2 separate regions of the Homo sapiens genome follow, and region 1 is linked to region 2. Evidence: fine-mapped expression QTL. A gene starts in region 2. The other region holds a variant in brackets. All regions are shown on one strand. Distances are from middle to middle.

Region 1 (16,039 bases), 33 kb after region 2:
GGACATCTTTTATTATTTGGTTTTTAACCTTGGTTCCTAACACAGAGTGCCTAACACCTTTGTAATTGCCAGAGTGATAGGAGCATCTGACACAGAGCTCCTAAATCCCTTGGAATGTTCTGGGCAATAGGAATATCTCTGGTTCTAATGAGGTGACTCTTGGTAGGCTCTTAAATGAAGGCTGGTTGCCAGAAAGACCAAGACATGGTTAGAAGCTTAGACATTTCACTCCTACCCCACATTAGTCACAGATGGGAAAGGGGCTGGAAAAAGAGTAATCAATCATGTCTACATGATGAAACCTCCATAAAAGTCCCAAAAATACAGGGTTACAAGAACTCCCAGGTGGACAAACACACTTATGTGCCACGAGGATGATGCACCCCAACTTTATAGGGACAGAAGCTCCTGCACTCTGGACCCTCTCAGACCTCCCCCAACTATCTTTTTATCTGGATGTTCATGTGTACCCTTTATTAATATCATAAACTGGTAAACATTGAGTGTTTCTCCAAGTTCTCTGAGCCTCTCTATCAAATTAATCAAGTGTGATGAGGGGTCGAGGGAACCCTCAATCTGTAGCTGGTTGGTCAGCAGTTCCAGAGGCCCAGACTTGACACTGGCATCTGAAGTGGAGGGCAGTCTTGATGGAGTGAGCCCTTGATCTGTGGAATTTGATGCTAACTCCAGGTGGATACTGTCAGAATTGAATTGAATTATAGGACATACAGTGGGTGTCCCCTAGAGCAGCAGTCCCCAACTGCTGCCCCAATAGGGCACCAGGGACCGATTTCAGGGAAGATAATTTTTCTACAGACCCTGGGGTGGGGGAAGATGGTTTCAAGATGATTCAAGTGCATTACATTTTTTGTTCACTTTATTTCTAGTATTATTACATTGTAATATATAATAAAATACTTACACAACTCACCATAATGTAGAATCAGTGGGAACGCTGAGCTTGTTTTCGTGCAACTAGACGGTCTCATCTGGGGATGATGGGAGACAGTGACAGATCATCAGGCATTAGATTCTCCTAAGGAGCATGCAACTTAGATCCCTTGCATTCACAGTTCACAGTAGGGTTTGCACTCCTATGAGAATCTAATGAGCAGCTGATCTGACAGGAGGTGGAGCTCAGGCAGTAATGCAAGTGATGGGAAGCAGCTGTAAATACAGATGAAGCTGCTCTCTCTTGCCTGCTGCTCACCTCCTGCTGTGCAACCCCATTCCTAACAGGCCATGGACTGTTCCTGAAAGGCCATGGACCGTTCCTGAAAGGCCATGCACCGGTACTGGCCCATGGCCCGAGGGTTGGGGCCCCCTGCCCTAGATAATTTATTGATTTGAGGAGAAACCCCCTCCCTACACATCTGGTGTAGGAGGTGAAATATTAAGAGTATTGTAAGAAGAAAACAATCCCCCCGCCCCCATATATATACTTGCTTCTATGAGGGAGAGGTTGATCTTATCTCTAATGATTTGGTTGAATTTAATCTAAGCCAGTCATACTGTTTCTATTCCTCTTGAAAGTTATCATCTTAAGAAGGAATATATGGTCTGTCAAGGTAAATGAAAAATGAGAGAAATCTTCTAGTTGAATTCTAGGAACTATTTTCCACTCATTAAGAAGATAGAGGCAGAGACTGGCATGGTGCAACTTCATGGTAAGGATCACTAAGGATTGCCAGCAGCCACCAGAAGCTGGAAGAGAGGTGTGAAGCAGGTTCTTCCTCAGAGCCTCTTTATTCCAGACTTCTGGCCTCCAGAACTGTGAGATACCACATTTCTACCATTTATAGCTTTGAAATCTGTGCTAATTAATTACTGAAGTCACAAGAATACATTACATAAATAAGTATAAATAATTCTTATGTATAGAATAAGGTCTATACACATACAATATATGCTTATACATGCATATGTATGTGTTTGTATATGTATTTGTGTGTGTATATATATGAAAATTTATATATATATATGAAAATTTATATATATATATATATCTCCAGGCTGGAGTGCAATGGCGGGACGCCGGCTCACTACAACCTCCGCCTCCTGGGTTCAAGCGATTCTCCTGCCTCAGCCTCCTGAGTAGCTGGGATTACAGGCGTCTGCCACCACACCAGGCTAATTTTTGTATTTTTAGTAGAGACGGGGTTTCACCATGTTGGCCAAACTGGTTTCAAACTCCTTGACTTCAGATGCTCTGCCTGCCTCAGCCTCCCAATGTGCTGGGATTACAGGCGTGAGCCACAGTGCCCGGCCGTATATGTATATTTTAAAGAGAATGTCTGTGGGGAGTAGGGTGTGTGTATAAACTTTACTTTGCGTGGTTCTAATATGCATAAACTTCACTTCTCACAGTTTAATTAAATAACTCCCCAACAGCACAGTTTAATTCTTTCAGCGTACTTATCTGTATTTGTATTATATTTACTGTAAGTAATTGTATAAAGTAGAAACTTCCATGCTAGTTTTTCAGTTCACGAATCACTATATACATGTTTGTATTGTGATTAACGACCAACCATGTCACTTTTTTCCAAGTCTGTCAATGATTGATTGGTCACCATGCATCTTTTATCAGTTAATACAGAATAAGATGGAGAGTTATTCTGTATTATTTTGTAAATGTCACATGGGTTTGTCACTGTATGACAAATTCCAAAGGAAATTTGAAACAGGAAGACAAGAAGAGGAAGGTAATTGAAACAGGAAATTGGTTAGTGACACAAAGTGCAGCAAAAAATGATGGCGCTGAAAGGGGAAATAAAATAGAAGAGAAATGAAGTTAGAGAAGCAATAGCTGTTGATAGGGTTATTAATAATTCACCTTTTGAAGAGTCTCTAGATAATGCAACCAGAGGAATTTAGTAAAGGCACACTTATTGACAAAAATAAGGTAAGTGGTTGTGATGAAAAGAATGAAGAGGTCCCAGAGGAAGTTATACGAGCTAAAGTGTTCACATCAAATGAACTCTCAATGTGTTTCCTAACATTTCAAGTGCAAAGAATAGTATATTGGAAGTCTATCCAAATTTAGGAATAAAAAAGCTTGAGAAGGCATCTAAAAGATGCTGGCTCCATATTGTAAGCGATAGAACAACAACAGCACGTACTCAATTCACACTACTCATTTTCTTTTAAGCAAAACACTTGAAACTCAGTGTTTTTAATGTTTTAATTATAGCATACTTTAAAAATATTAATTTTATTGTTGTTTACATTTCCCTATACGTTTATGAGTGACAGTAAAGTAATTTTCAATCAGGAAAAGAGGATAAAGGAAAAATCATACTTTTCCCTATTATTAAAATAGCTTGGTGTGATATCAGCTTGTGCAGTAATTTTTATTATCACACACTACAGTGCAAAATAAAAACTGCCTGTATATGAAACAAGCTTTCATTAGTTCCTATGAAAACATGTAAAAACAATGGCTTTGTTTTCCCACATTTTACTAAACACTCCACAGGTACACTTAGAACACAGTGGTTAAAAATGTAGAACAGAAAAAAGTTATTAAAAACAAGAAAATGGGGGCAGATCCACTTTGTGGCGTGAGAGAATGTGTACACTTTCCAGTGCAGGCAATTTATGTTATATACCTGTGTCCAATCGGAGATTTTTAGGGAGACAATATAAAGAAGCCGGAAAGGGAGGGTATGGGACTCCCCATTCTCTGCTCTGCGTACCAAGCAGGTGGGAGGTGAGGTGCCCATTAGGTTGAATTCTTATCGCTGTGCCCCAGCCAATCGTGGGCTGCGGAAATCATGGGCTGTAGAGTCATCGCTGCCGGGGCAGAGGCACCGTTGGTGCATGCCCGGCTGCCGTTGCTGCCCCTGCCTCGTACAAACGTCAGAGAAGGCACATGACACGCCCCTGGGGGCCATCTGGCCCAAGTCCACCTGCGCGGCTGAGTGGAGGATGCTAGGTTGCTGTGCTGTTTCTCCTACTGTCTTGCTGCCGCACCACCCCTCAGAAAAACCGGGTCGTCAGTTTCCTGCGGTTTGCACTCACCAAATATACTTAGCAATTTGCAATTCACCCGCAGGATTATTCCAGCCTCTGTGATCACACACAGAAGGATGAGCCTTCCTCGTGAGGGTTGGAGATGGAGGGAGAAGGGATGGAGAGTAAGGATGGGACGGAGGTTGTGGAGCAGCAGACCAACACGCCAGGTGGGTGAGGTTGTGTGATTATTCTAGCATCTTTTCTTGATCCTAGCTTGCACCCTTTTAGCATTGGGAGGGAAGGGCAGGGTAGGGGATAGCGACCATAATATAGATCTTAAGTAAAAGCAGTTTTCATTAATAAAACAAAGACTTCAATAATAATGATAATTGGCGATTCCAGCCTCCTCCATCATATTGGAAAAGACAGTATTTCATTAAAAATACTTGGAATTTTCCCTTGGAAAAGGCAGTATTTTATTAAAAGACGCTGCGAGGAAACTGTTGGTTTTCTGTTCTGGAAGCAGGGCAGAAGAATTAGTAACACAGTTCTGCCAAATAGCACAGGAAAGTGGAGCCAAAGCACCTTCGAGGCTCCTGATGTTCAAACGTTAGGTCTTAGTTCCCTTTCTTATTTTTCTAATACATTAATTGCTGAATTGTGAACAGTAGAACACGCGGAAGATAGAGAAAAGAGATAAACATGATGGGTTTTTTGTTGGTTTGCTTGCTTTTTTTCTCTCTGGAACATAAACAATGACATCTGTTTCTCTTTGGTATAATAGAAAGGAAAATAATGATCATCTCAATTTTTATATGTGGAGGCATTGCTTTTCTTCTTTGGGGGATTTTAAGATTTCCCAGAAAATGTAAGTAAACAATTTCTGCTAAAATTATTAAATTAAATTGTTAAAATTATTGTATTATTGATTCAGTTGGATACCAATAACTAGTCTTTCCTTCCTTAATATAGAACAATTTAGAGATAAAAGCATTTTCCAAGACAGTGCATCTAATTGCTCTTCAAACTTAGTCACCTGCTTCACCTTCTAGAATAATCAGTCTTTCAATAAATATGTATCAAGCTTTAGGCACAGTGCTGCCTGCTGATGATATAACAATGAAAAAAAATGGTATTTCTTGCCTGAAAGTAGTTTATCTTTAACTGAATATGGAAGCATGTAAGCAAACAACTGTAACACAAAAGAAATAATTACTAAATAGAACTATGTTGAATTTGAAGCAGGAGAGGAGATTATAAGTTAGCTGCTTGTAGTCAAGGCTTTAATGAAGGGAGAAATATTTGTGCTGAATCTTAAACTCAAGTAGGCGTTTATCAAAGATCATCTTAGAACACACATGTCAGAGAATCACACCAGGTATAATTATGATGGAGTTACAAAGAAGTAGGGTGAGGGACTGGCAATTGTATTATAGTTCCCTAGTGCATTAACTCTTTCACTGCCATTCATTAGCAATTTATACCTTGTCCTTCATCTCCATTCTCCTCATGCTCATTCTCATGTCTATACCCTTGCTTCCAACTTGTTCTAATTTTAACAATTTGTAGGAAACTTCCAAATGCTCCCATCACCACACCAGCTTACTTACTCCATCTCTGCCCCTACACTCTGCCTAGACTCCTGGAACTGTAGATGCAGTATTCATGTTCTACAATAGATCCTATATTCTTTCACTGGATCAGTAATATCACCCTAGTAATTCTCCACTCTCCTACATTATCCTTTTTTCATCCTCAACTGAAACATCTCCATCAGCAAATATGACATACTGGTATCTATATCAACCTTGAAAAAATAAACAACAAAAACAACAGAATTTATTAGACCCCACTTATCTTTTAGCAACCAATTTATTGTTTTTCTCCTTGGTACAGCAACCTCTTTAAAACGGCTTTTCAAAATAATTTTTTATCTTTCCTTTTTCTGTTAAATCCACTTGGATCAAGCTTCCACTCTGCTTTTTCCACCAAACTTGTCTTTCAAGTTCACCAATAACTTCCATATTGCTAAATCGACTGGTCCATTCTCCCTCCTCACCTTATTATATAACCTATTTGCAGCTTTTGGCACTCCCTTTTTCTAAAAAAAAAAAAAAATTTCATTTGACTTACATGACGCCATATTCTTGTGGTTTGCTTTCTACTCATTTTACCAACAACCGTGATTCCCTGATTCTCCTTCACTCTGATCTATTTTACGACAAACTATATAATTTCAGACGCATAAGTCCCATAAGAGTAGGTATTTCTGTATGTTATGTAGGCTATTCATAGAGTTACAAAAATGTCTGGCGTGTAGCAGGTGCTCAATCGGTAGTTGTTGACTGCGTAAATGAAAGAATGAATTAATTAGTAAATGAATGAGAAAACTGCCTTTCTGGTGACCCAAGTTTTGAATTAAGTATTTGGTTTTTATATTGGTTATTGATTTGAATTTGACATTTTAAAATAATTTTGAACATGACACATTCAAATAACTTTGATAACTTGATTTTTTCACTTCACTCTCAGGTCTCAACTATATAGAACCATATTGCCAGTTGATCCTTCCCATTGAGGATTTTCCCACTCACAGATTTGAAGATGAACCAGTCATTTATTTTAGTTGTGGATAGGAGGTGCTCTCAGAGCTTGTTTCTTTCAGGATTATACCTTAACAAGGAACTTCCTTTATCTAGTGCAGTAACTTAAGGAGTAAAAGTGGAGAGTAAAAAGGGAAATTTTAGCATTCTTTTTTCTGTGTTTCTTGTTTCATAACGGACAAGGAAACAG[C/T]GCCACCTTCTAGAGAAATGCTGTCTTTGAAAGACAATATAGTCTCAGTTAAGTTGATGATAGGAACCAGCTCACTGAAGTTATGAATATAGAAAAATTTGTTTATTTACACTGCAACTTGTTCTAGAGAGCATAGTAAATTTTAGGAAAGAAATAGATGAATAAAGAAAATTCATGTAGTCTAAAAATTAGGAGGGAAAATGGCTGGAAGATACTGAATTTCTGGAAGTTTGTTATTGAGTTTTTAAATTTTTCATAGCTCTCATTCTCCAGTGCTTATTCCTTTCATGTTCTCTTCTCGATATTCAATTTTTTTGAATTGATGTTTAAAGTTAAGTCATTCAAATTGAATATGTAAGTAAAACACATTTTATTAGTCTGAGCTATATAATAATATTTTACTCTGAAGCTCACTCTTTCTTTCTTTGATACTTTCTTTATTCTTTTTCTCTATTACCTGTTAATTTCAGTTGGAATTCCAAGGCACCTTAGAAACAAGACATGCCTAGAAAATTTGACTATGTGTCCACAAGGCTGGAACTGAATCAATAATAATTGCTTCTTTCAATCTGAACATGAAACAACGTGGATCAATGGCTGAGAAAACTGCAGAAGTTATGGATCTCTGGCCAGGCTCAACTCTCAGAATGAAATGGTTAGATTTCTTCTTTGCAATATTAAACTCATTTAATAGCTACTAAAAGACAGGCACACTCCTAGGGTGTAATACATTAGCAAACCAAAGAATCAAAGATCTTTGCCCTTGTGGAGTTTACATGCTAGGGGAAGAGATAAGCAATGAAAAATTATCTTATTAAATATGTAATTTATATATTGTGTTAGAAGTTGGAAAGTTTTATGCAAAAAAATGAAAATTAAGGGAGTGGGTTTACTGCAGGTAAGGTTATATCCCAATAAGATGGTGACATTTTAGGAAGGATGTGAAGCAGGTAAGGGACTATCTAGAAGTGAACTTTCCAGGAAAGGAAAATGGCTGGAGCGTGTGTCTTAAGGCCAGTGAATGTCTGGAATATTCAAGGAACAGAAAAGAAGCAGCCAGTCAATCTATCTAAAATGAGGGATTGAGTGAAGAATGCGGATCATTAGGGTCTTGCAGGCTATTGTAAAGAGTTTAGTTTTTGCTCCAAGCAAAATAGGGAGATACTGCCAAATTATGAGGGAAAATGTAATAGGATCTGACTTAAGTTTTAAAAGAATCATAATCTTTGCTGTGATGAGGTTGGCTACTGAGTCTCAAATGTAAACGGAGGGAATCATGTTATACGGCCTTTGCAGTAACTGTGCAAGATAATAATAGACTTAAAGGGCACTGGAGGGAGTGAGAATGAGAAAACTAGAAGAAATCTATGACAGCACTCTGTATTTTGTAAAGGGAATCTTTGATGCATTATCTGGGGCCGTCTTTATATTGGTTTGAACTGAGCAAGCACAATGCAAACAAAACGTGGATGTGGGCAGATGGAGCTACATTCAGCAATTGGTAAGCCTTACTAACATGTATTTACTATTAAATGTGTAAAGCGTGGTAAAGATTCTGAGTCTATAACTGGCTTCCTCCATAGATTCCTCCACATCATCCCCCCAAAAGACCCTCAAAAAATAGATGCCAAAGAGAATATTTAGACAAAGTTACGGTTTTTAGTGAGGGTTTGGCATCACATATCAATATTTATGTATATATATGGAATTGGTATATACCACATGTGAGTCACAAGTGTTCCCTTTATCCTGAACTGGATGCAAGTCTAAGCAGTTTGATCCTTTCCTCTTTGGACCTGGGACCTTGCCTTTTGTTTTTGTTTTTTTTGTTGTTGTTCCTTTGGCCTTTCATTGATGGGAGAGCATTAGAGAGTGTACTGAAGCCTACACTTTCCGCACCCACCAGTGGCCTGACATGCACAAGAGTAAGTTAAGAAGAGAACGTGTTTGCCTCAGTTTACCTTTGTTTAAAATTCAAGAACTTCTTTATATTCCATAGCTTGAAAAAACTCATCATACACTTAGAATCTATTTTGTTCTTAAAACACTTACAAATTTCTCCAACGTCAGGGTGGAGAAGGTCATATAAAGGATATTGAGTTCTCAGTATTCTTTGGTGAACTAAAGGTGACCACTAGCTACCATTTATTGACTGCCCACTTTGTAATAGATACTGGTTCTGTAGCACTCCATGCCAGATATTACATGTTGTATATAATATAATAAAGTTAGTAGCGGAACTTTCTAAAGTTGAGAAAATTCTCTTATGATTATTGTATTTACATTCAATTTGGGGTGAAAATGCACAATGATTTGAGAGGGATAATATACCCAATATTATATTTTATCTTTGAAAAATGTAAAAAAAAAAGACAGATTAAACTTTCTGACTATAAAACATAATATTATATTTTCTTGAAAGAAAATATTAACAGCTTAATGTGGCATTACATATTATATACAGGCCCATCAAAAAATGAGACAGGAGTTAACATTGGTGTATTAATTTGCTAAGTCTGCTGTAATAAATGCCACTGAATGGGTGGCTCAAAGACAGCTCTGGGGGCCGTTAAGTCCAGGATCAAGGTGTTAGTAGGGTTGGTTTCTTTTAAGGCCCTTCTCTTTGGCTTGCAGATGGCTGTCTTCTCACTCTGTGTTCATGTGGCCTTCTGTACACACTCAAGTCTGTGTCTAACTTATTTCTTCTTATAGGGACATCAGTCATATTGGATTAAGGTGCACCCTAAAGACCTTTTCTTACCTCAATCACTTCTTTTTTAAAAAAAACAAATACCTTATCTCCAAATCTGTTACATTCTCAGGTACTGGGAGTTAGGCACTTAATGTATGAAATTTGGGGGCCTATAATTCAGCCCATAACGGTTGTTATTAGTTGGCACTATGGATTGGATAAGCATAAAAATACACATATATTTTGGGAATGGGCAGGATAAAAATTTGAAGTTACCCTAGAAGTTAGGAAAGTGTACACCAGTACTGTGAAGTTCCCCCAAATAATTACAGTATAACCAGAAATGTATCATGATTAACCATCCTGTTTTCCTCCGTTTTGAATTTTGAATTTCACATGTTTATATGTATGGCATAAAATATAAATGTAGGAAATCTTTTCTTTAGATTTTATTTGTTTACTTATGTGTATCGTAATCTATTGAGTAAAGAATACCTGTTTCACTACAGTGATGGTGATAAAGAGTGGCCAAATGTGAACATTTATTTCAGCATTAATAGACCAATTTTGTAATATATGAAAGGTATGTTCAATGAAATGTCAGTTACACTCCCCTTCTTTATAATTTCTAAATGGCTAAACACATTGATATATCAATGTTTATGCTACAGTATAAAGGGAAGAATCCAATCCCTCACAAAATGATTACAATGTTTGCTATAGTATCAACAGCGTAAACTTCCAGGACTGTGTTGTTAGGCACTGAAGTCACATAGTGTCCTTTTCTTCCTGCCATCAGGGTCCTGAGGTAAAATTTGGAGAAAGATAGGAGGAGAGCAACAGCTTGTTTCACTTCCTCTACTCCTTCCACACTGCACGTGTTTTAGAAACCGGGCTAATGAAATTTACGTTCTATTTTCGAGGCTGTGCTCAGTTATTTCTCAGGAGGTCCAGTAAATAAAGAATTAATCTATTTGTTTTGTCTTTAGTCAAGTTATGAAACTAGCGAATTATTTACATTAAGTGGATTTGTTGTTGCTGTCGTTGCTGAAACTAGTGAAAGAATCGAGTTTTGTGCTATGAGTCATGGGAGCAAAACGTGAGTATTTAGAAGTGGAGAGGACCACGAAGAAGGAAGCCCTGGTGACTTGAAGAAATCATGGAGAGTTCTCCGGATTCCCACAAACCTATGGGGTTTAGATTCCAGCTAATACTTACACGGGTCTCAGAAGGACAGAGGGCAAGGGTTAACATCTGGCTGATATTAAAGTCTCTGCACCTCTTAATATTTTACTTTGGCCTAGTTTTCTTTTCTTCGCTTTTACATTTCCTGATATAATGAGTAATTCTCTTTTGAGTATTAACTTGTACCATGAACTATGCTAAATATTTTTACCCCTAAATGATGAAGAATTTTTATCATTTTTTGCTGAAATAAATGAGCAAATGAAAGATTGTTTACCTGGGATTATAGTAAATGGTAGAACCACATTTTAAATTCAGCTGGGTCTCACACACATTACAGACATTCAAACAATGTGGAAAATAATATTGAAAAAATAGATGGTTGGCCGGGTGCGGTGGCTCATGCCTGTAATCCCTGCACTTTGGGAGGCTGAGGTGGGCGGATCACGAGGTCAGGAGATGGAGACCATCCTGGGTAAGATGGTGAAACCCCTTACCCTCTACTAAAAAATAGAAAAAATTAGCCGGGCGGGGTGGCGGGCGCCTGTAGTCCCAGCTACTCGGGAGCCTGAGGCAGGAGAATGGTGTGAACCCGGGAGGCGGAGCTTGCAGTGAGCAGAGATCGCGCCACTGCACTCCAGCCTGGGTGACAGAGCGAGACCCCGTCTCAAAAAAAAAAGAAGAGAAAAAATAGATGGTATGTTCAGCATCATCAGAAGCAAATTTTATCAGCATCTCATCTTCTCATTCTCTATGGGGCCGGGATTTAATAGTGTGTAAACCGTGTTAGCAGGTTAAATGCAGGTGTTGTTAAATTATAATTTACATGCTGTACTGTACAAGAACAAAAATAATTCTAAAATTTTCAGATTATTGTGCTACAAAAAATGACCATCGTTAGCAAAAGGAGGATGGGGAATGAGACTTATGCATTTTTAAGGTCATTAAACATCTCCATTAGCCATCTCTGGAGTGGTGACTATCACATTAGAAGGGGACCGCTTTGCATCTCCTAATGATGACATTTCTATCCAGCTGTACTGAAATAGAAATAATGTTAAAAGGAGTCAGAGCGCCCAGTGGAGAAAATTTGACAGGTAAAGAAGAAAAGAGAAAGGAACAAATAATGGGCTGCGGGTTGAATTTTATGAACATGAGCAGAACTTTGAACATTTTTAAGTATAGTTATTCAGGCTAGGTGAGTGGATTGCATCCCCTTCCAACTTATTCTGAGGACAGTACCCAGAGTGAACATATTAAATGTATGTCAGATCACACCGCTATTCTGCTCAAAAGAATTTTCCATCTTCCCATTTCACTTAGAATATTAGCCACAGGCCTCAGAATGGCAAAAACAGAATTACCCTGTTGGTACTTAGCTGAACTCTTCTCTCACTGTTCTCCTCCAGACACAGCTGGCTTCCTCACTCTTTCCGGAATGTGCCAGGCATACATCTGCCCTAGGATCTTCACACAATTCCACCAGGATGATGGTATCCACATGGCACTTTCCCTCCTCAAAGTTCATTTACATTTCACTTTCTCAGTGATGCTTACCCTGACTACCCTATTAAAATTGCAGCTCACACTCCTCAACCTTGACATTACTAATCAATTTTAACCTGGTCTATCTTTTGTTTTCAGTGGAACTTATTACATACTGGAATATGGAATATTGTACCATTTGTTTACTATCTTTAGTCTTTATGTTTAAACTTCCTGGAATGGAAACCCCATGAGTAAAGGAATCTGTGTCTATTTTGTTCACAGACGTATTTCAAGCACCCTGAAAAATGCCAAGTACTAATTAGGCATTCTGTAAATGTTTGTTGAATAAGACAATGAAGAGGCAAATTAAATTAAATACAAAATAGTTTGTTATCCAGGACATTTCTGACTGTATAGCCAAAGCTTTAAAATGAAGATAAGAATAATTTTATAAAATGAATTAGACACATATCAACCCTAGGGAGAATCTTCAAAGTGGTCTGCTCCTTTGAAAAGCCTTAAACAGGAAAGCTTTTATTTAAAGAATGGGCTGGGCATGGTGGCTCACACCTGTAATCCCAGCACTTTGGGAGGCCGAGGCGGGTGGATAACCTGAGGTCAGGAGTTCGAGACCAGCTGGACCAACATGGAGAAGCCTCGTCTCTACTAAAAATACAAAATTAGGCAGGCATGGTGGTGCATGCCCATAATCCCAGCTACTCAGGAGGCTGAGGCAGGAGAATCACTTGAACCCAGGAGGTGGAAGTTGCGTGAGCCGAGATCACACCATTGCATTCCAGCCTGGGCCACAGGAGAGAAACTCCATCTCAAAAAAAAAAAAAAAATGACACTGTGCTTCTGGAAATAACCTAATTATTACCAGAGGAAGGAATTCATGTCTATGCCATACAAGAGCTTTCACCCTTTAGAAGTGTTTTACGGAAGGTCACACACACACACACACACACACACACTGATCAAATTGCGGAATTCTCTGAAGCATACAGAGAATGGCATTTATTCTGGCAAGAACTGTGCAAATTGTTACAAGAAACATAAGGGATGGCAAGTATGAACAATTATATTTCAACAGATGCAGGAAGCAGTTGAAATATGGCTTCTCAACATCTGGGGCTTGCATACTTGTCATCTGGAAACCAGATTGGGTCAGTTACATGTGGAAAGGAATAAGTTATTGCCAGGCCAAATTTCCATATTAAAAGAAGTCTCCATTACCAGATTCTTTTTTTACAGACACCAAATAGACCAGGGAGTTACTAAAAATGGAAGGAGGTCGTGAGAAAGCAAGTCATACTATGAGTAGGACCTCACCTTATGAATTGCCTCTTTAGCAAAATCAACTGCAGAAAGGAAAGACATTGTCTGTTAAATGAAAGGTAATAAATGGAATTCGCAGGTGGACAAAAATACCTCCTGAAATCCCGTAACCCAGCGGGGTACAGATGAGACACGCCCTCTGCAGATACAGTGTGCAACTACCAGTGTGACTCTGAGTGCCCGTTTTCTGTCTCTGCACCGAAGCACCAAAAGCAAAGATTCCAGGCTGAAGCAAATTTTTTTTTTTTTTTTTTGAGACGGAGTCTTGCTCAGTTGCCCAGGCTGGAGTGCAGTGGCACGATCTCGGCTCACTGCAAGCTCCGCCTCCCGGGTTCACACCATTCTCCTGCCTCAGCCTCTCGAGTAGCTGGGACTACAGGTACCCGCCACCAGGCCCGGCTAATTTTTTGTATTTTTAGTAGAGACGGGGTTTCATTGTGTTAGCCAGGATAGTCTCGATCTCCTGACCTCATGATCCACCCGCCTCGGCCTCCCCAAGTGCTGGGATTACAGGTGACAGACACCGCGCCCAGCCAGTTTTACAGCTTTTTATAAAGATAAACATACTTATATGATGCAGCAATTCAATTTCTGGGAATTTATCCAAGAGAAAACTTGCTCACACAAAAATGCCTGTGTACAGCAGTTTCATACATAACAGTCCCACCCTAGAAACAAAAGTCCATCAACTAGTGATCAAAGAGATAATTTCTGGTATAACATGCAATAGGAATACTACTAAGAAATAAAAGGGAATGAACTACTTACCTGCACAACAACTTGAGTGAATCTCAAAAGTATTATAAATGAAATAAGCAAGAGACAAGACACTACATATTATATGATACCATTTATATAAAATTCTATGAAAGGGGCTGGCCGTGGTGGCTCATGCCTGTAATCCCAGTACTTTGGGTGACTGAAGCCAGAAGATCACTTAAGCCCAGGAGTTCAAGACCAGTCTGGGCAATATAATGAGACCTAGTCTCTACAAAAAATAAAATTAGCAGGGCATGATGGTGCGCGACTGTAGTCCCAGCTACTTGGGTGGGTAGGGCAGGAGGATTGCTTGAGCCAAGGAGGTCAAAGTTGCAATGGGCCAAGTTTTCCCCACTGCACTCCAGCCTGGGCAACACAGTGAGACCCTGCCTCAAAAAAAAAAAATTCCATGAAAGGAAAAACTATGTTGATATAAAGCAAAGTAATGCTTGCCAGGGTCCAGGGTCAGAAAAGATAGTGATTACACAAGGAAAAAAAGAAAGATGATGGAAATGTTCCATAGCACGGTTGTTGTGGTGTTTACATGATTGACTTTACGATCCTTTTGTTATGGATGAGTTAATTTTTAAATTCCTTCCTTAAACTAACAAGTCTGCCTACTTTTATCTTTGATCTAAAATTAGTACTGATGTTTTCCATTTGGATTGGTTAAGTCTCTTTTGACTGAAGCTTGCTCAGTGCCTAAATAAGTGATGTACATGAAAAGCTTTCTAGTCCTCTCCTACTGATCTCCATCGGTTAGCGCCTTGCCATGATTAATCCAGAGCTGCGGGATGGCAGAGCTGATGGCTTCATACATCGGATAGGTAAGTTTTATAGAGTGAATGAGAAGGAAGTAAAGGAAAGATAAAACAAAATACAGGACAGCTTAAAAATATGGACTCTTTACTTACTGTGAAAGTCTACTAAAGTAAGTGAGGGATGGGGAAGCACTTCCGGAGAATTGTGGAAGCCTGTTAGAGCATGTAGAGTTTTATGTCTGCAAGAGAGGGTATAAGCTTGTGTGTAAGAAGGTTTTGGGGCAGAATTTTATGGTACGTGTATTATATCTCAATAAGAATATTTTTAAAATGTACTTTCACAGGGAAAAAATTGCTTAACACTTTTATACAGAATAAAAAGCAAATGCTTCACTCTGGAAGGAGGCTTGATGATTGTGACTTCATAAGACTGAAAAGAACTTTTCAAAAATTTTAAGATTCAGCTAAGGCCAACAATGAAGTTTGTTTTCAGTGGATTGAAACATAAACAAACCAATAAATAAAAACAAGGTACACATACAAACACCCTCCATTCACAATAGTTCTGAGGGTTTATGTTAAAGAAAACGAATGAATTGTATGCCAAATGACTGGAATAGGAAGCCTGCCAAAACTTTAAGATAAAGACAGTGAAGAGATAAAAAGTAAAATCTTGAAATGAGTTAAGGACTCCAGCTGAAACCACTATCAGAGTTTACTGATATGAATTCCCAGGGCAATTGGGATAATTCTTTTAATAATAAGTAAGCCTGATACTCTTAAAGGTTGAAGAGACCTCAGTAGCTACCTAGTAAAACTTTTCATCTACCATACGATTTCTAGCTACAGCATTTCTAGCAGCCTATACTAGAATGTTTTCAGTGATAATATCTCTCTGTCTTAGAAGACTTTCCATTTTAATTTAAGGATGTTCTATTTAGAAGTTTCTTTAGGGTAAGGTTAAATTTACTTCGTTGTATATTCTAACTATTGGTCATAGTTACGAACTCTTGATCTATGAAAACTTCATAAGAAAATTTTTAAAAATTAGTCTACATTTTACACA
Region 2 (17,548 bases):
CAAGGCTTACATTTGTGCTCTGGAAGAAGAACATAGTTTTATTTGGGTTTTGTTGATAGTCATAATAATTCTTATTATTTCCTTTCCTCTCTGTGTGACATTGATCACATTTGCTGTTTATTCTTCTTTCTTTTTCTTTCTCTCTTTCCCCCTTTTTTTTTTTTTGACAGAGTCTTGCTCTATTGCCCAAACTGGAGAGCAGTGGCGTGATCTCAGCTCACAGCAGCCTCCACCTCCTGGATTCAAGTGACTCTCCTGCCTCAGCCACCCAAGTAGCTGGGATTACATGCCGTTTCTTTTTTTTTTACATCGAAGGGGAAGTAAGTGAATCCTGTATTCTAGTTCCTTATATACCACCATAATGTGTCAGACACATAACTTGAACAAAAAAATTTCAAATTAAGCACTTGGATTCAAGTGTGTCTTCCTATGTCAATTCCTCTTTGTTATTTTGTATATTCTTTAAAGACAATAAAAACTAATTACTGGAAACATTCTGTATAGTAAGAATTAACCCCACCTATCTATACCAATCTTATCTTCTTTAATTTTTGTTCTCTGAAATGTTGAAACTTTGAGGTTTCTCAGGAGCAAAAGGAATATGTTTTAGCAACTATGACTATAGAAACTTATGGAGACACTAAAAGACCAACTCCCCGATCCCAAAGGTGAAGTCTCAATTTATTTTTTTCTATGGACTTTGTTATCAATCACTGACTGAAATTTAAGAATGAAGTCACCTGTAAAGAGGTGTCACTTCCTCCCTGTCTTCTATTAACCTCAGTGCCCAGAATAATTATAGTAAGTGACAGATTAGAGAAACTGTCTTGTCTAACATTTTATTATGTAACCATTATCTCCTGATAATTTGGGGGCCTATTGTTGTTACTACTTTTTCTGTTTTTCTTCTAACTGCGTGGAAATATCAATGAATTCTCCATCAACCACATGTAATTCTTTCCCCCAAATTATGACTCCCTAGAGAAAGGCTGCTAGCTAATTATAAAATGATTCTTAAGAGACTCAGTGGTTTAGTTTATTGTCCAATAAATAACTCCAAGAGAATACAAGATTACCTTGTTCTTTGCTATATAGCTCACGACATAATTTGGTGGCTATTGTTTGCAGTGTGGTGGAGAGGTTCCTGATCTTGTTGGAGATATTCATGTTACTCATCAGTTGTAGAGAAATATTTCTCTGGAGCTCTTCACTGATGTTTTGTAGTTTGTTCATTTTTTTCATTTCTATCTTCAAAGTTACGTGAACTCCACATTAAAAAAATGACAAAAAATTGTAAATTCTCAATAGAGCCATCATCCTTTATCATTTGCAGAAGTAGTATAAAGATTAAAGGGGTAGGGAAAGCAATTACTCTACAGGAGTGAGGGAAAGAGACTAAGTTCCACATTGTAAGTCCTCCTTGTGGGCCTATCACCTATCATTATTATAAATCTTCCACTGAAGGAATAAACTTTTGTTGCTAAATATTTGAAATTCTAGATACTTCCTCTTGACAAAAACAGGGGCAGTACATACACATGCTTGCCAAGACTCCCAATCCAATGAGCAACAGAAGGCACAGAAGAGTCAGAAACAAGGCTGCTGGACGCCATACATGAGAGGGAGCTGGAGGTGCTGTGGAAAGCAAAATTAACAGAGAGGCCTAAAAATGGTATAACTTTCATTTGGATTATTTACTCATTCATTCATTCATTCATTTTACCTTTATTTCCTAATATGCCTATTGGAAAGAAATGGATTTGCTAGCCATTCAAGAATATTCAAAAAATATTTTTGAAGAATATGTCAAGAATAAATCAAAATCACTTAATTGTTTTGTATGTAAATTGATTCTGGCAGGAGAAGCTGTTAACTGGTAGACTGATTTAAAAAAACAGATAAGCAAAAACAGAATTTATAATAGAGAATGGAGAAAACCAGTCAACCTAGATATAGTGTATTTTGTTTGTACAAATTTGGGAAAAGTGAGTAGCTGGAAATTAACAGAGAAGCCAATAGGAGAAGTCTTTGCTTGAGTAGACAATTGTGGCATGTCAAGAAAAACAGTTTCAGTTGTTTATGTATCCCCCCAGGCAATTATGAGAATTTAGCTGCAGAATGAACAAGATAGGCTGTCTTTTCATAATGTCTTTGGGTGTCCTCCCGTTAGCTTTTGATCTTAATCAGTCCAGATCTACACCATTTTTATTGCAATTTTTCAAAAAAATTTTCATGTGTTTTTGCAAGAAACTTTTATTGAATACTTCCTTTTTAATGAATAGTGAAGCCCAGAATAGATCATTTCTCTATTTAAAAAAAAAACAGGAATTATAAACTTTGTGAGTGAATTATTATTGTGACTATGTTATTTAAATCATCATTATGTATAAAGCTATTATACATTAGGTAAAGACTAGCTAGATATTTCAAGAAAATCCAATTCAGGGATACCATAATAATCTCACTATACTTCTGAGCTATGTCTTACATCTCATAGTTGATGGTGCAATAATATTGTGAAATCCAGAGACAATTACTAATAAATAGTAAAACTTAACTTATATAGACTTTAGAAAATAGTTACTACTGAAAGAACTACATGTTCAAGATTTTATCTAAGATTAGAATTATAAATGCCAGTGCTATCTTTCTTAAAATTATTTTCTTATTTATATGTGTATTCAATTATTCAAGTTTATTTATTCAATGAACTTATTCAATTATTAAAAAGTTCAATTATTCAAAAGTTATCTTTTGAGTGCCTTGTATTTATTAGACATTATCCTGGGTGCTAACAATATCAAAGTGAGCAAGATGTACAAGTTCCTGTTTTCACAGCTATAAATTTTAATTGTAGGAGGAAATAGATAAATAGATATATAAGTGAGACAGGGAGAAAGAAAGAAAGGGAGAAAAGATCTCAAATTTGGCGATGTTGTGCAGAGATTTAAAACTAAGCTGTTATAGAGAGCAGGCAGTTCAAATCTTATGAATAGGAACCAGCATGCAAAATAAGTAGGAAGAACATTACAGGTAGCAATTACATGAAGTTCAAAGACAATAATTTAAGGAAAAGATTTCTATTTGAAAAACAGAATATATTCAGAGGGGCAGAAGAATTGTGGCCAATGTGAAAAATGATGTTAAAGGTTTTATTTGTTTTCTTTTGTTTTGTTTTTAAAATAACAAGGAGGAGACATTATTTACAGCCTTTTCTAGCCAGAATAAGTTAGATTTTTGGGGAAACCACTGGAAGAATTTAATCTAGGAGGGCAAAATAACAGAGTTGTTTTATCAGTAAGAAATCTGTTACAGTATGACATGTGAAAGAGAACAGAAGTTTGACTAGCTAGTACTAGGGAATTTGATGACCCATGGATAAATTAAGTATACATTTCTAAGCTAAAATCTATTGCAAAAATTTCTGAAATTTTTCTTTAGAGAAAGTTGGTAGATATGCACATTTGTAGGCAGTATCTCATAGTGATAAAAAGCAAAACACCATCTTTAGGGTTAGCATGTGTATTAGTCCATTTTCACATTGCTAATAAGACATACCCAAGACTGGGCAATTTATAAGGAAAGAGAGGTTTAATGGATTCACAGTTTCACGCGGCTGGGGAGGCCTCACAATCATGGTGGAAGGTGAAAGGCACACCTCATATGGCAGCAGACAAGAGAAGAAAGAACTTGTGCAGGGAAACTCCCCTTTATAAAACCATCAGATCTCATGACACTTATTCACTATCACAGGAACAGCACGAGAAACACCCCTACCATATGATTCAATTACCTCCCACGAGGTCCCTCCAACAACACGTGGAAATTGTGGGAGCTATAATTCAAGATGAGATTTGGGTGTGGACACAGCCAAACCATATCATTCCACCCTGACCTCTCCCAAATCTCATGTCTCACATTTCAAAACCAATCATGCCTTCCCAACAGTCCCCAAAAGACTTAACTCATTTCATCATTAACTCAAAAGTCCACAGTCCATCTGAGACAAGGCAAGTCCCTTCCACCTATGAGCCAGTAAATTCAAAAGAAAGTTAGTTACTTCCTAGATACAATGAGAGTACAGGCATTGGATAAATACGGTCATTCCAAATGGGAGAAATTGGCCAAAACAAAGGGGCTACAGGCCCCATGCAAGTCCAAAGGGCACCAAATCTTAAAGCTCCAAAATCATCTCCTTTGGCTCTATATCTCACATCCAGGTCATGCTGATGCAAGAGGTAGGCTCCCATGTCTTTGGGCAGCTCTGCTCCTGTGGCTTTGCAAGGTACAGTCTCCCTCATGGCTGCTTTCATGGGCTGATATTGAGTGTCTGCAGCTTTTCCAAGTGGACAGTGCATGCTGTCAGTGGATCTACCATTCTGAGAGCTGGAGGACGGTGGTCCACTTCTCACTGCTCCACTGGACAGTACCCCAGTGGGGACTCTGTGTGGAGCTTCTGACCTCACATTTCCCTTCTGCACTGTCCTAGCAGAGGTTATCCATGAGCACCCCATGCCTGCAGCAAACTTCTGCCTGGACATCCAGGCATTTCCATACATCCTCTGAAATCTAGACAGAGGTTCCCAAAACCCAACTCTTGACTTCTGTGCACTCAAAGGCTCAACACCACATGGAAGCTACCAAGGCTTGGGGTTTGCACCCTCTCCGAAGCCATGACCTGAGCTGTACCTTAGCCTCTTTTAGTCATGGCTGGAGCAGCTGGGATGCAGGGCACCAAGTTCCTAGACTGCACACAGCAGAGGGACCCTGGGCTCAGTCCATAATACCATTTATTCCTCCTAGGCCTCTGGGCATGTGATGGGAGGGGCTGCTGGGAAGACCTCTGATATGCCCTGGAGTCATTTTCCCCATTGCCTTGGCGATTATCATTTGGCTTCCCATGACTTTAGAAATTTCTTCAGCTGGCTTGAATTTCTCCTCAGAAAATGGGATTTTCTTTTATTTATCATTGTCAAGCCACAAATTTTCTGAACTTTTATGCTCTGCTTCCCTTATAAAACTGAATGCTTTTAACAGCACCCGAGTCACGTCTTTAATGCTTTGCTGCTTAGAAATTTCTTCTGCCAGATATCCTAAATCATCCCTCTCAAGTTCAATGTTCCACAAATTTCTAGGGCAGGAGCAAAATGCTACCAGTCACTTTGCTAAAACATAACAAGAGTCACCTTTGCTCCCGTTCCCAACAAATTCCTCATCTCCATCTGAGACCACCTCAGCCTTATCACCATTTTTGTCAAAGCCATTCAAGAAGTCTCTAGGAAGTGCCAAACTGTCCCACATTTTTCTGTCTTCTTCTGAGCCCTCCAAAGTATTCCAACCTCTGCCTGTTGCCCAGTCCCAAAGTCTCTTTCAGATTTTTGGGTATCTTTACAGCAGCGCCCTACTCTATTGGTACCAATTTACTGCATTAGTTCATTTTCACACGACTGATAAAGACATACCCACAACTGGGTAATTTATAAGTAAAAAGAGGTTTAATGGACTCATGGTTCCATGTGGCTGGAGAGGCCTCACACTCATGGTGGAAGGTGAAAGGCACATCTCACATGGCCACAGACAAGAGAGAACTTGTGCAGGAAAACTCCTCTTTATAAAACCATCAGATCTCATGAGACTTATTCACTATCACAAGAACAGCATGGGAAAAACCCGCTCCCATGATTCAATTACCTCCCACCATGTCCCTCCTACAGCATGTGGGACTTATGGGAGCTACAATTCAAGATGAGATTTGGGTGGAGACACAGTCAAACCATATCAGTATGTTTTGGTTTGAATTCTGGTTCTGCTGCTTATTGCTTGTGAAACCTCGGGAAAATTATTTAACACCTTTTAACATCTCTGTGTCTGAGTTTCAATATGGTTAAAGCATGGGAGACAGAAAGACTGCAAAGTATCAGACACTAAATAATTTAATATTTATAATGCAATTAGAACAGAACTGGCACAGAGAAAACACTTGAAAATTGTATTTAAATATATATTTATATGTGTATTTAATGAGATGAGGCTGTCTGGAGAGAGAGACAATTTTAGAAGAAAAATAAATATTACTATTTTTGACATTTTAAGTTTAAAATGAGATTAGAACTCCTTATGGAAATGTGAAAGTGGCACATGTATTTTCTAGTCTTGAGATTCAGGGAAAGGTCATACAGAGATATTGGGGAGTCACTCTATTTAAAGTCAAACAACTGAATGAGGTAGATTAGAAGAGTGTACTGAGTGATGCAATAAAACGGGACCCAGGACAGGGCTTCAGAGTATTCCATCTTGTAGAGTTTCATCTAGGAGGAGGAATCAACAAAGAATGAGGAGAGGCAGGCATGGTGACAGGAGAAGCCATGAGGATGTGTCAGGAGGGATGTGCAAAGAAAGCATTTAGAGGACTGTTCAACTTTTTCAATGCTGCAGGGAAGTGAAGTAATGGAAGAGACATGTGACTATTGGGATGAAACAGGCAGGACATCAGTGACCTAAAGCTCAGTCTCTATGGCACCAAGGGGGCAGAAGCCTAATAGAGTTGGTTGAGAACAGAATGAGAGGTGAAGAACTGAGAGTCAGTGGCCAAAGAAAATGCTTTCAAAAGTTGAGTTGTGAAAGGAAACAAAGAAGTTAAATAATAATGGAAAGGCTTAAGTGGTCAAGCAAGGATTGTGTTTTGTTATAAAAGGAGTAGCAGAGTATATTGGTGAGTAGTAGAGTATGTTGGTGCACCAAAAAGGAAAAGCAGAGAAGGAAGAGAGAATAATGACACAGGAGAGAAAGGAAAAAATTACGGAAGTCTGTCTTTGAAAACGACACATGGACTGAAATTCAGAGCAAAATGAGGAGCCGTCCCTTCATAAGTACATACTTATCGTAAATACTATCTGGAAGGAAAGCAGAGTATCAGTAAGGACATGGTAGGATAGACATTTAAATAACAACAAAAAAAAGTGTAGATGGATGCTTTTTTCTTACCAGAGGAAAGGTGAGAGTAACTGGGGTTGAAAATTTGTGTATTTTTCACCAGCAATATTCAACTCTGGGGCAGACTGGGTGGATATTCGGGTTTAACCAGAACTGGAGTTGTTTTTATTTGTTTGTTTTTGGGGTTTTTGTCTTGTTTTGTTTTGATTTGTTTGAGGCAGGATCTTGCTGTGTCACCCAGACTGGAGTACACTCGCCTGATCTTAGCTTACTAGAGCCTCCAACTCCTGGACTCAAGTAATCCTCTTTCCTCAGCCTCCCAAGCAGCTGAGACTATGGGTGCCCAGTTAATTAAAAAAATTTTTTTTTTATAGACATGGCATATCTCTACTTTCCCCAGGCTGGTCTCAAACTTCTGGCCTCAAATAATCCTCCCATCTTGGCCTCTCAAAGTGCTAGGACTATGGGTATGAGCCACTGCACCTAGCCAGAGCTGGAGTTTTTAAGGAAAAATTAACACACATTGAAGAGGAGAAGTGTAAGAGACTAAGAGTAGACATTACATAATACAATGTTATATTACATAATGTAGATTCTAAGCTCGATAATGAGAAAATTAGATGAGATTAAGAACATGAAGAAGACATGGATTCAATATTTCCGTGAATTCAGGGAATTCTTGTGGTGGGAACTTAAGGTGGATTGGCAGGAAAAGAGGTGGGAAAGGGTGTGAGAGGACAAGTAAAGGGCAATTGTTGGTAATATTAGGCTCATGATATGCCCATTCTCTTTCAGTGTATAAAAGAAGAAATATAAACAAGGAAATAAAGACAGAAAATATTGTAAAATTCTTAAACCCTTCTTCTTTCTAAAAAAAAATTTCAGTATTAAAAAAGAAGCCAACAGAATTAATCTGCTATCCTTTCTCAAGATTTACAATGCTCATCATAAATGGATCCAAGATGTAACAGTGAAATTTCTGTTTATAGCAATGCTAGAATATTAAAGATGTTATATTCTGTGTGGGGAGAGGAGAGAGGACAACAACTTAAATAATATGTGAGAATTTTGGCACTCTTCTCTCCTTATTTTTCTGTTTCTATCACCCTTCTTTGTGTTCTCCACTATCACTGTTTAAGTTATTTTTAACTCAAATACACTGATTTAAACTATGGATTCGCTAGGGCAGATTTCACTCCCAAAAGGCTAGGAGCCAGAAGGCAAGAACCATACATAATAGGAAAACTATAGGATTCTGAGTAAGATGAAGAGTAGTTTTGTTTAAGTGAAAGTCAACACAGATGGACCACTTATTTCATGATTTTAATTTGAATTGAAAAATACAAAGTTACTTGATATAATGTGGTTTTGAATATTATGAATATATTATGTCTTCTGATATTTCTTTACCTCTTTTCTTCCTTTATTCCTTAATGATTCATTTCATTTAACTTAACATGTTTTATTTTTTAGTAAGTTAGTAAAAAATCTCCAAAAGAAGTAGGAGAAATTTTAGGGTGATTTATGCTTAGTTTGGTAGATAGTCAAATGAAATCCTATAAAGGTCTCTCTGTCTGACACAAAGCATTTTCTTATAAAAAAAAAAACACACACACACACACACATATGAAATCATGACTTTCCTGAACATGTTTCTTTTTCCATGGCTTCATCTCATAAAGAAATAAAATCTTCATACAACCCAATCATTTGAAAAATTCTGTCCCAATTATATTGAGTGTGATAATAAAAAATTTCAAAAATGTAAAAGATTGATTATTCAATGCAGAGATAAGTGTTTTTACAAAACCCTTTTTTCTAATCATTTTGTTCATACACTTTTTGTTCCTTTGCTTAAACATAAGAGACTTAATTGAAAATTTAAGTTGAATAGTAACTATATCACTAATATTGAAGATGCAAGTCTATAACCACTTCTATTATACAAACTTACAACACATCCATAACTCAAAATCTTACCTTTTTCCCCAAATTTGCCAATTTCTGGGATTTTTTCCATCTCACTGGAGTTCTGGAATTGAAGATCTGCATAAGTAACTTCTTCAGACATTGATGAATATGTAAAGAAATCTTGACAAAGTGTAAAAACACAAAAAGATGAGTGAGTTAACAGAGCTGAATGTTAAACAGGACCTATAATTTTAAACTTCTGTTTATAAACGGAAGCTTAAGCTTACAAGTTTAAACTTCTGTTTATAAACCTACTGTACCAATCACCCATATGTCTGCAAATGAGCCAAATCTCATCTGTGGCTTCAGTTAAGAACATTGAACTGTTGCAACAGATAACATCTTTCTTCCTCATATTTCTTCCTTTTTCTCAATTTCTATATATTTACCAACTACAGAAAGTAGTTTTTGAAATTGTGTTTGGATAACATCATCAGTGTCATGCAAGAGAACACAAATAACTAGCACCACATGGTGCAGACATAGTGTAGGATTTATTGGTGAAAAACTTTCAAGCAGAAAAATAACAGAAAAGATGCAGTTCTCAGACACTCACTAATCTGCAGCTGTGGCCTGGCATAGATATTCCTTTTGTATGATGATGAAGGTCCTGATAGAAGGGTTCTCTTCACTGGGAGACTGAACATACAGAGAGCACTCCCAAGGAGAATGAGACAGTTAGTGTCATTCCGTTGCCATGTTACATAGCTATAGGTTTGCCTAAGAGAGGTAGGGAATGCCTAGTTTCTCTAAATAACAATATATAGGTTGGTGCTAAAGTAATTCTGGTTTTTGCCATTAAAAGCAAAAGTAATTGTGGTTTTTGCCATTAAAAGTTTACAAAATTACTTTAGCGCCAACCTATATATTAAGGGATCTGATGCCCAGAAACCACACCAGAGAGTATGCATACTGATGGCCAAGGTCTGTATACTGAGGGCTCTGGAAACAGCTTTGCAGGCCAGGAAAACTATAATCAGCCTTGCTATCTCTCTACAGACTGACTCAACCATTTGATCTCCTCCTCAGCTAAGCTATCAAAAGTGGGAGGGAAATGAGTCTCCAAAGTCCAGATTTGTGTCTTATTAGTTTGACTCAATAGTCTTAGTATTTTTTATTTCACTTCTTGATCAAGAATGCAAGTGGAAGTGAGGGGGTGGAGAGGACTGTTTTTGAGCATGTTCTCTAATATTCGTTAGTAAATCTTACTTTAAAATTCTTCTTGACATTGCCACATGTAAATCATAAAATGGTTAGGTATTATTATTATACATATGAAAGAGAATGCATAAATATTTTTAAAAATCAATTAAAAACTAATTGCTTTATTATGTCAGGATAGACAGGAAAAACAAAATGCTCCCTTTATAAGAGCTACTAAAAATAAATAGGAAAATATTACAGATAGAAATTAACTAGATATTTGCATAACCAAAATGAACAAAAAAATTTTAAAACTATTGAAGAAAAGAAAAAAATAGAAAAACATGCTGTGGGATTAGAAGCGTCAATACTGTATAAAAAGAAACTAAATTCTCCTAAATGTATCAAAAATTCAATGTCAATTTAATTAAAACAACTGATTTTCTCCTGATAAAGAAAAAGCTATTGAATACATTTGAAAATATTACCATGAAAATATTGGCAGCCACATTTAAAGGAAAATATATTCAAAACATGATTACTTCATCCTAAGTACTTTACTAATGTTGCTTTTATCTTTACAACTCTCTAAACCAGGTGCTATTATTATCACCCTTATTTTACAGATGCGGAAGTGAGTTGCAAAGTGGTTAAGTTTGTATCCAACATCACACAGTTGGTGAGTGGTAGAGTTGAGACCATCAAAGTCTCTGGTTGCCTTGTTCAAATATGTGCACAGGCTATAAGGCCTCTCCTGGTGGGAAAGAGTAGCCCTCTATTTTTCCTAGGTGGATCAAATATTTGCATATAAATATTTGTTTATAAATATCTCTTTGTTTGTGAAAGGATGGAAACCGGCCACCACACAGGCAGAGTCCTGTTCTGTGTTCTATTGCTCTGCTGTCTCATGTGGAACGTTGTTTCATCAATCAACACTAGAAGATGAAGCGTATATGACGAACTGTAAAGGGAAACAAATGAAAAATCTCAAAGTCCTGTTTGCAAGGTACTCTATTTTGTTGAAAATATTTGAATAAGTATTACTTCATACAAAATCCTTGGTTTAGAGCCAGCTAAAACATTTATATCCACAAGAATAAGCTGAGCTCTGAGATGACTACATGGTTTGCCCTTCACAGCCTATATCAGTTTTTTAAAAATTTTGTTATTGATACAAAATAGTTGTATGTATTTTGGAGGTACATGTGATATTTTGAAACCTGTATACAATGTGTAATGACCAAATCAGGGTAATAAGAATATTCATTCCGTCAAACACTTACCTTTTCCTTCTGTTGGGAATAGTACATTTCTTCTCTTTTAGCTATTTTGAAATATACAATAAATTATTGTCAACTATAGTTTTCCCACTGTACTATCAAATACTAGAATTTGTTCCTTCTATCTAATTTTATTTTTGTACCCAACCAACTTATCTTTATCCCCCACCACCCCTTTCTAAGCCTCTGGTAACCACAATTCTACTCTCTGCTTCCATGAGATTCATTCTTTTAGCTCTCACATATGAGTGGAAACATGTGATATTTGTCTTTCTGTGCCTGGCTTATTTCAGTTAACATAATGACCTTCAGTTCCACTCCTGTTTCTGCAAATGACAGGATTTCATTTCCTTCTATGGCCAAATAATATTCCATTGTGTATATATACTATAGATACCTGCACTCCCATGTTTATTGCAGCACTATTTGCAATAGACAAGATATGAAATCAACCTATATCAATTTTCATTCTAGTTGAATACTAAGAGACAATCTGCAAATATAATTACAGATGTCTTCCAATATTAAACATAAGTGATACATTATCCATTACCTAAATTATATATTTTTTGTGGGTTGTTATTGTCAGGCCTCTGAGCCCAAGCTAAGCCATCATATGCCTGTGTATATGCCTATGACCTGCATGTACACATCCAGATGGCCGGTTCCTGCGTTAACTGATGACATTCCACCACAAAAGAAGTGAAAATGGCCTGTTCCTGCCTTAACTGATGACATTATCTTCTGAAATTCCTTCTCCTGGCTCATCTTGGCTCAAAAGCTCCCCTATTGAGCACCTTGTTACCCCCACTCCTGCCCGCCAGAGAACAACCCCCCTTTGATGTAATTTTCCTTTACCTACCCAAATCTTATAAAACAGCCCCACCCCATCTCCCTTCGCTGACTCTCTTTGCAGACTCAGCCCACCTGCACCCAGGTGAAATAAACAGCCTTGTTGCTCACACAAAGCCTGTTTTGTGGTCTCTTCACACGGATGCGAGTGAAATTTGGTGCTGTGACTCGGATCAGGGGACCTCCCTTGGGAGATCAATCCCCTGTCCTCCTGCTCTTTATTCCATGAGAAAGATCCACCTATGACCTCTGGTCCTCAGACCAACTAGCCCAAGGAACATCTCACCAATTTTAAATCCAGTAAGTGGCCTCTTTTTACTCTCTTCTCCAACCTCTCTCACTATCCCTCAACCTCTTTCTCCTTTCAATCTTGGCATCACCCTTCAATCTCTCTCTTAATTTCAGTTCCTTTCCTTTTCTGACAGAGATGAAGGAGACGCGTTTTATTCATAGACCCAAAACTCCGGCACCAGTCACGGAATTGGGAAGACAGTCTTCCCTTTGGAATCAGGCAGGGATGCCTGCCTGATTATTCACCCATGTTTCAGAGGTGTCTGACCATGTGGGGACACCTGCCTTGGTCCTTCACCCTTAGCGACAAGTACTGCTTTTCTTGGGAGCAAGAACCCCCAACCCCTTCTCTCCGTGTCTCTACTCCTTCTCTGCTTTTCTGGGGGGCAAGAACCCCACCGCTTTTCTCCATGTCTCTACCCCTTCTCCGCTTTTCTGGGGGGCAAGAACCCCCCAACCCCTTCTCCTTCACCCTTAGCGGCAAGTACCGCTCTTCTTGGGGGCAAGAACCCCCAACCCCTTCTCTCCATGTCTCTACTCTCTCTTCTCTCTGGGCTTGCCTCCTTCACTATGGGCAAGCTTCCGCCCTCCATTCCCCCTTCTTCTCCCTTAGCCTGTGCTCTTAAAAACCTAAAACCTCTTCAATTCACAGCTGACCTAAAACCTAAATGCCTTATTTTCTTCTGCAATGCCACTTGACCCCAATACAAACTCGACAGTAGTTCCACATAGCCAGAAAATGTCACTTTCCATTTTTCCATCCTACAAGATCTAAATAATTCTTGTTGTAAAATAGGCAAACGGTCTGAGGTGCCTGACGTCCAGGCATTCTTTTACACATTGGTCCCTCCCTAGTCTCTGTTCCCAATGCAACTCATCCCAAATCTTCCTTCTTTCCCTCCCGCCTGTCCCCTCAGTCCCAACCCCAAGCATCGCTGAGTCTTTCTAATCTTCCTTTTCTACAAACCCATGTGACCTCTCGCCTCCTCACCAGGCCGAGCTAGGTCCCAATTCTTCCTCAGCCTCCACTTCTCCACCCTGTAATCCTTTTATCACCTCCTCTCCTCACACCTGGCCCAGCTTACAGTTTCATTCCATGACTAGCCCTCCCCAACCTGTTCAGCAATTTCCTCTTAAAAAGGTGGCTGGAGCTAAAGGCATAGTCAAGGTTAATGTTCCTTTTTCTTTATCCCAAATCAGATAGCGTTTAGGCTCTTTTTCATCAAATATAATAACCCAGCCCAGTTCATGGCTCGTTTGGCAGCAACCCTGAGACGCTTTACAGCCCTAGATCCTAAAAGGTCAAAAGGCCGTCTTATTCTCAATATACATTTTATTACCCAATCTGCTCCCGACATTAAATAAAACTCCAAAAATTAAATTCCAGTCCTCAAACCCCACAACAGGACTTAATTAACCTCGCCTTCAAAGTGTACAATAATAAAGTAGAGGCAGCAAAGTAGCAACATATTTCTGAGTTGCAATTCCTTGCCTCCACTGTGAGACAAACCCCAGCCACATCTCCAGCACGCAAGAACTTCCAAACGCCTAAACCACAGTGGCCAGGCATTCCTCCAGGCCTGCCTCCCCCAGGAGCTTGCTAAAAGTGCCAGAAATCTGGCCACCTGGCCAGAGAATGCCCGCAGCCCAAGATTCCTCCTAAGCCATGTCCCATCTGTGCAAGACCCCACTGGAAATCAGACTGTCCATCTCACCGGCAGCCACTCCCATAGCCCCTGGAACTCTGCCCCAAGGCTCTCTGACTGACTCCTTCCCAGATCTTCTCGGCTTAACAACTGAAGACTGTCACTGCCCAATCACCTCAGAAGCCTACAGGACCATCACAGACACTCTAGGTAACTCTCACAGTGGAGGGTAAGCCCGTCCCCTTCTTAATCAATACGGAGGCTACCCACTCCACATTACCTTCTTTTCAAAGGCCTGTTTCCCTTGCCTTCATAACTGTTGTAAGTACTGATGGCCAGGCTTCTAAACCTCTTAAAACTCCCCAACTCTTGTGCCAACTTAGACAATACTCTTTTAAGCACTCCTTTTTAGTTATCCCCACCTGCCTAGTTCCCTTATTAGGCTGAGACACTTTAACTAAATTATCTGCTTCCCTAACTATTCCTAGGCTACAGCCACACCTCATTGCCACCTTTTCCCCCAGGTCAAAGCCTCCTTCACATCCTCCCCTTGTATCTCCCCACCTTAACCCACAAGTATAGGACACCTCTACTGCCTCCTTAGCGACTGATCCTGCACCCCTTACCATCCCATTAAAACCTAATCACCTTACCCCGCTCAATGCCAATATCCTATCCCACAGCACGCTTTAAAAGGATTACAGCCTATTATCACTCTCCTGCTACAGCATGGCCTTTTAAAGCCTATAAACTCCCCTTACAATTCCCCCATTTTACCTGTCCTAAAACCAGACAAGGCTTACAGGTTAGTTCAGGATCTGTGCCTTATCAACCAAATTGTTTTGCCTAACCACCCCATGGTGCCAAATCCATATACTCTCCTATCCTCAATATCTCCCTCCACAACCCATTATTCTGTTCTGGGTCTCAAACATGCTTTCTTTACTATTCCTTTGCACCCGTCATCCCAGCCTCTCTTCACTTTCACTTGGACTGACCCTGACACCCATCAGACTCAGCAAATTACCTAGGCTGTATTGCCGCAAGGCTTCACAGACAGCCCCCATTACTTCAGTCAAGCCCAAATTTCTTCCTCATCTCTTACCTATCTCAGCATAATTCTCATAAAAACACATGTGCTCTCCCTGCTGATCATGTCCGGCTAATTTCCCAAACCCCAATCCCTTCTACAAAACAACAACTCCTTTCCTTCCTAGGCATGGTTAGGGCAGTCAGAATTCTTACACAAGAGCTGGGACCGCACCCTGTAGCCTTTCTGTCCAAACAACTTGACCTTACCATTTTAGCCTAGCCCTCATGTCTGCATGCAGTGGCTGCCGCTGCTTTAATACTTTTAGAGGCCCAAAAAATCACAAACTATGCCCAACTCATTCTCTACGGTTCTCATAATTTCCAAAATCTATTTTCTTTCTCCCACCTGACGCATACACTTTCTGCTCCCTGGCTCCTTCAGCTACACTCCCTTTTTGTTAAGTCTCTGACAATTACCATTGTTCCTGGCCCAGACTTCAATCCAGCCTCCCACAGTATTCTGGATACCACACCTGACCCCTATGACTGTATCTCTCTGATTCACCTGACATTCACCCCTTTTCCTCATATTTCCTTCTTTCGTGTTCCTCACCCTGAACACACTTAGTTTATTCATAGTAGTTCCACCAGGCCTAATCGCCACACACCAGCAAAGGCAGGCTATGCTATAGTACAAGTCACCAGCCCACCTCTTAGAACCTCTCATTTCCTTTCCATCGTGGAAATCTATCCTCAAGGAAATAACTTCTGTTCCATCTACTATTCTACTCCTCCTCATAGATTATTCAGGCCCCCTCCTTTCCCTACACATCAAGCTCGAGGATTTGCCCCCACCCAGGACTGGCAACTCTTAACTCCCTCTCAGAGGGGATAGATAATCTTTGCTGGCAGGGGACCCTCCAATACTTTCACCCTGATGAAGTTCTATTCTTTACTTTTATACTCAATCTTATTCTCATTCCCATTCTTATGCCACCCTCTACCTCTCCCCAGCTATCTCCACCACACTATAAACATTACTCATTCTCTCCTAGCTGTTTCTAATCCCTCCTTAGCGAACAAACTCTAGCTTTGCATTTCCCTTTCTTCCAATGCCTACACAGCTGTCCCCACCTTACATGCAGACTAGGCAACATCTCCTGTCTCCTACACCTCCAAACTTCCTTTAACAGCCCTCACCTTTACCCTCCTGATGAACTCATTTACTTTCTAGACAGGTCCAGCTAGACCTCCCCAGACATTTCACGTCAGCAAGCTGCCGCCCTCCTCCACACTTACTTAAAAAACCTTTCTCCTTGTATCAACTCTACTCCCCCCGTATTTACCTCTCACAACACAAACTACTATTCCTGTGGCTGCTCCTTTATGTATCTCTCAGCAAAGACCCACTGGAATTCCCCTGGGTAACCTTTCACTTTGATGTTCCTTTACTCTTCATCTCCAAAGCCCTCTTGTTGTTTACTTATACCCAGCCCCATAAATAACAGTGAAAGGTAGCTCATAGACACTCAACATTTTCTCATACACCATGAAAATCGAACCTCCCCCTCTACGCAGTTACCCCACCAGTCCCCATTACAACCTCTGATGGCTGCTGCCCTAGCTGGATCCCCAGGAGTCTGGGTACAAGACACCCCTTTCAGCACTCCTTCTCATCTTTTTACTTTGCTTCTCCAGTTTTGCCTCGCACAAGGTCTCTTCTTCCTCTGTGGATCCTCTACCTCCATGTGTCTACCTGCTAATTGGACAGGTACATGCACACTAGTTTTCCTTACTCCTAAAATTCAATTTGCAAATAGGACCGAAGAGCTCCCTGTTCCCCTCATGACACCGACACGACAAAAAAGAGTTATTCCACTAATTCCCTTGCTTATCAGTTTAAGACTTTCTGCCTCCACTATTGCTCTCGGTACTGGAATAGGAGGCATTTCAACCTCTGTCACGACCTTCCATAGCCTCTCTAGTGTCTTCTCTGCTAGCATCACAGACATATCACAAACTTTATCAGTCCTCCAGGCCCAAGTTGACTCTTTAGCTGCAGTTGTCCTCCAAAACCGCTGAGGCCTTGACTTAGTCACTGCTGAAAAAGGAGGACTCTGTATATTCTTAAATGAAGAGTGTTGTTTCTACCTAAATCAATCTGGCCTGGTGTATGACAACATAAAAAACTCAAGGATAGAGCCCAAAAACTTGCCAACCAAGTAAGTAATTATGCTGAACCCCCTTGGACACTCTCTAATTAGATGTCCTAGGTCCTCCCAATTCTTAGTCCTTTAATACCTGTTTTTCTCCTTCTCTTATTCTGTTTAGTTTTTCAATTCATACAAAACCGTATCCAGGCCATCACGAATAATTCTAAATGACAAATGTTTCTTCTAG

Evidence for each region.
Region 1: its variant is fine-mapped to the expression of CLEC12A in whole blood (INTERVAL, PIP 0.91).

The regions. Positions count from the first base shown.
Region 1 is chr12:9,931,275-9,947,313 of GRCh38, reverse strand. It overlaps LINC02470 (long intergenic non-protein coding RNA 2470), which reads left to right and starts at 3,819. Exons shown (of 5, transcript NR_104634.2): 1 at 3,819-4,184; 2 at 4,742-4,825; 3 at 7,221-7,405; 4 at 8,144-8,251; 5 at 10,500-10,735. It overlaps CLEC2A (C-type lectin domain family 2 member A), which reads left to right and starts at 14,944. Exons shown (of 5, transcript NM_001130711.2): 1 at 14,944-15,039. The coding sequence starts at 14,985. The variant C/T (reference allele first, on the strand shown) is at 6,751.
Region 2 is chr12:9,963,053-9,980,600 of GRCh38, reverse strand. CLEC12A (C-type lectin domain family 12 member A) reads right to left here and starts at 9,192. Exons shown (of 6, transcript NM_138337.6): 1 at 8,914-9,192; 2 at 1,537-1,635; 3 at 1,077-1,265; 4 at 1-19. The coding sequence starts at 9,004.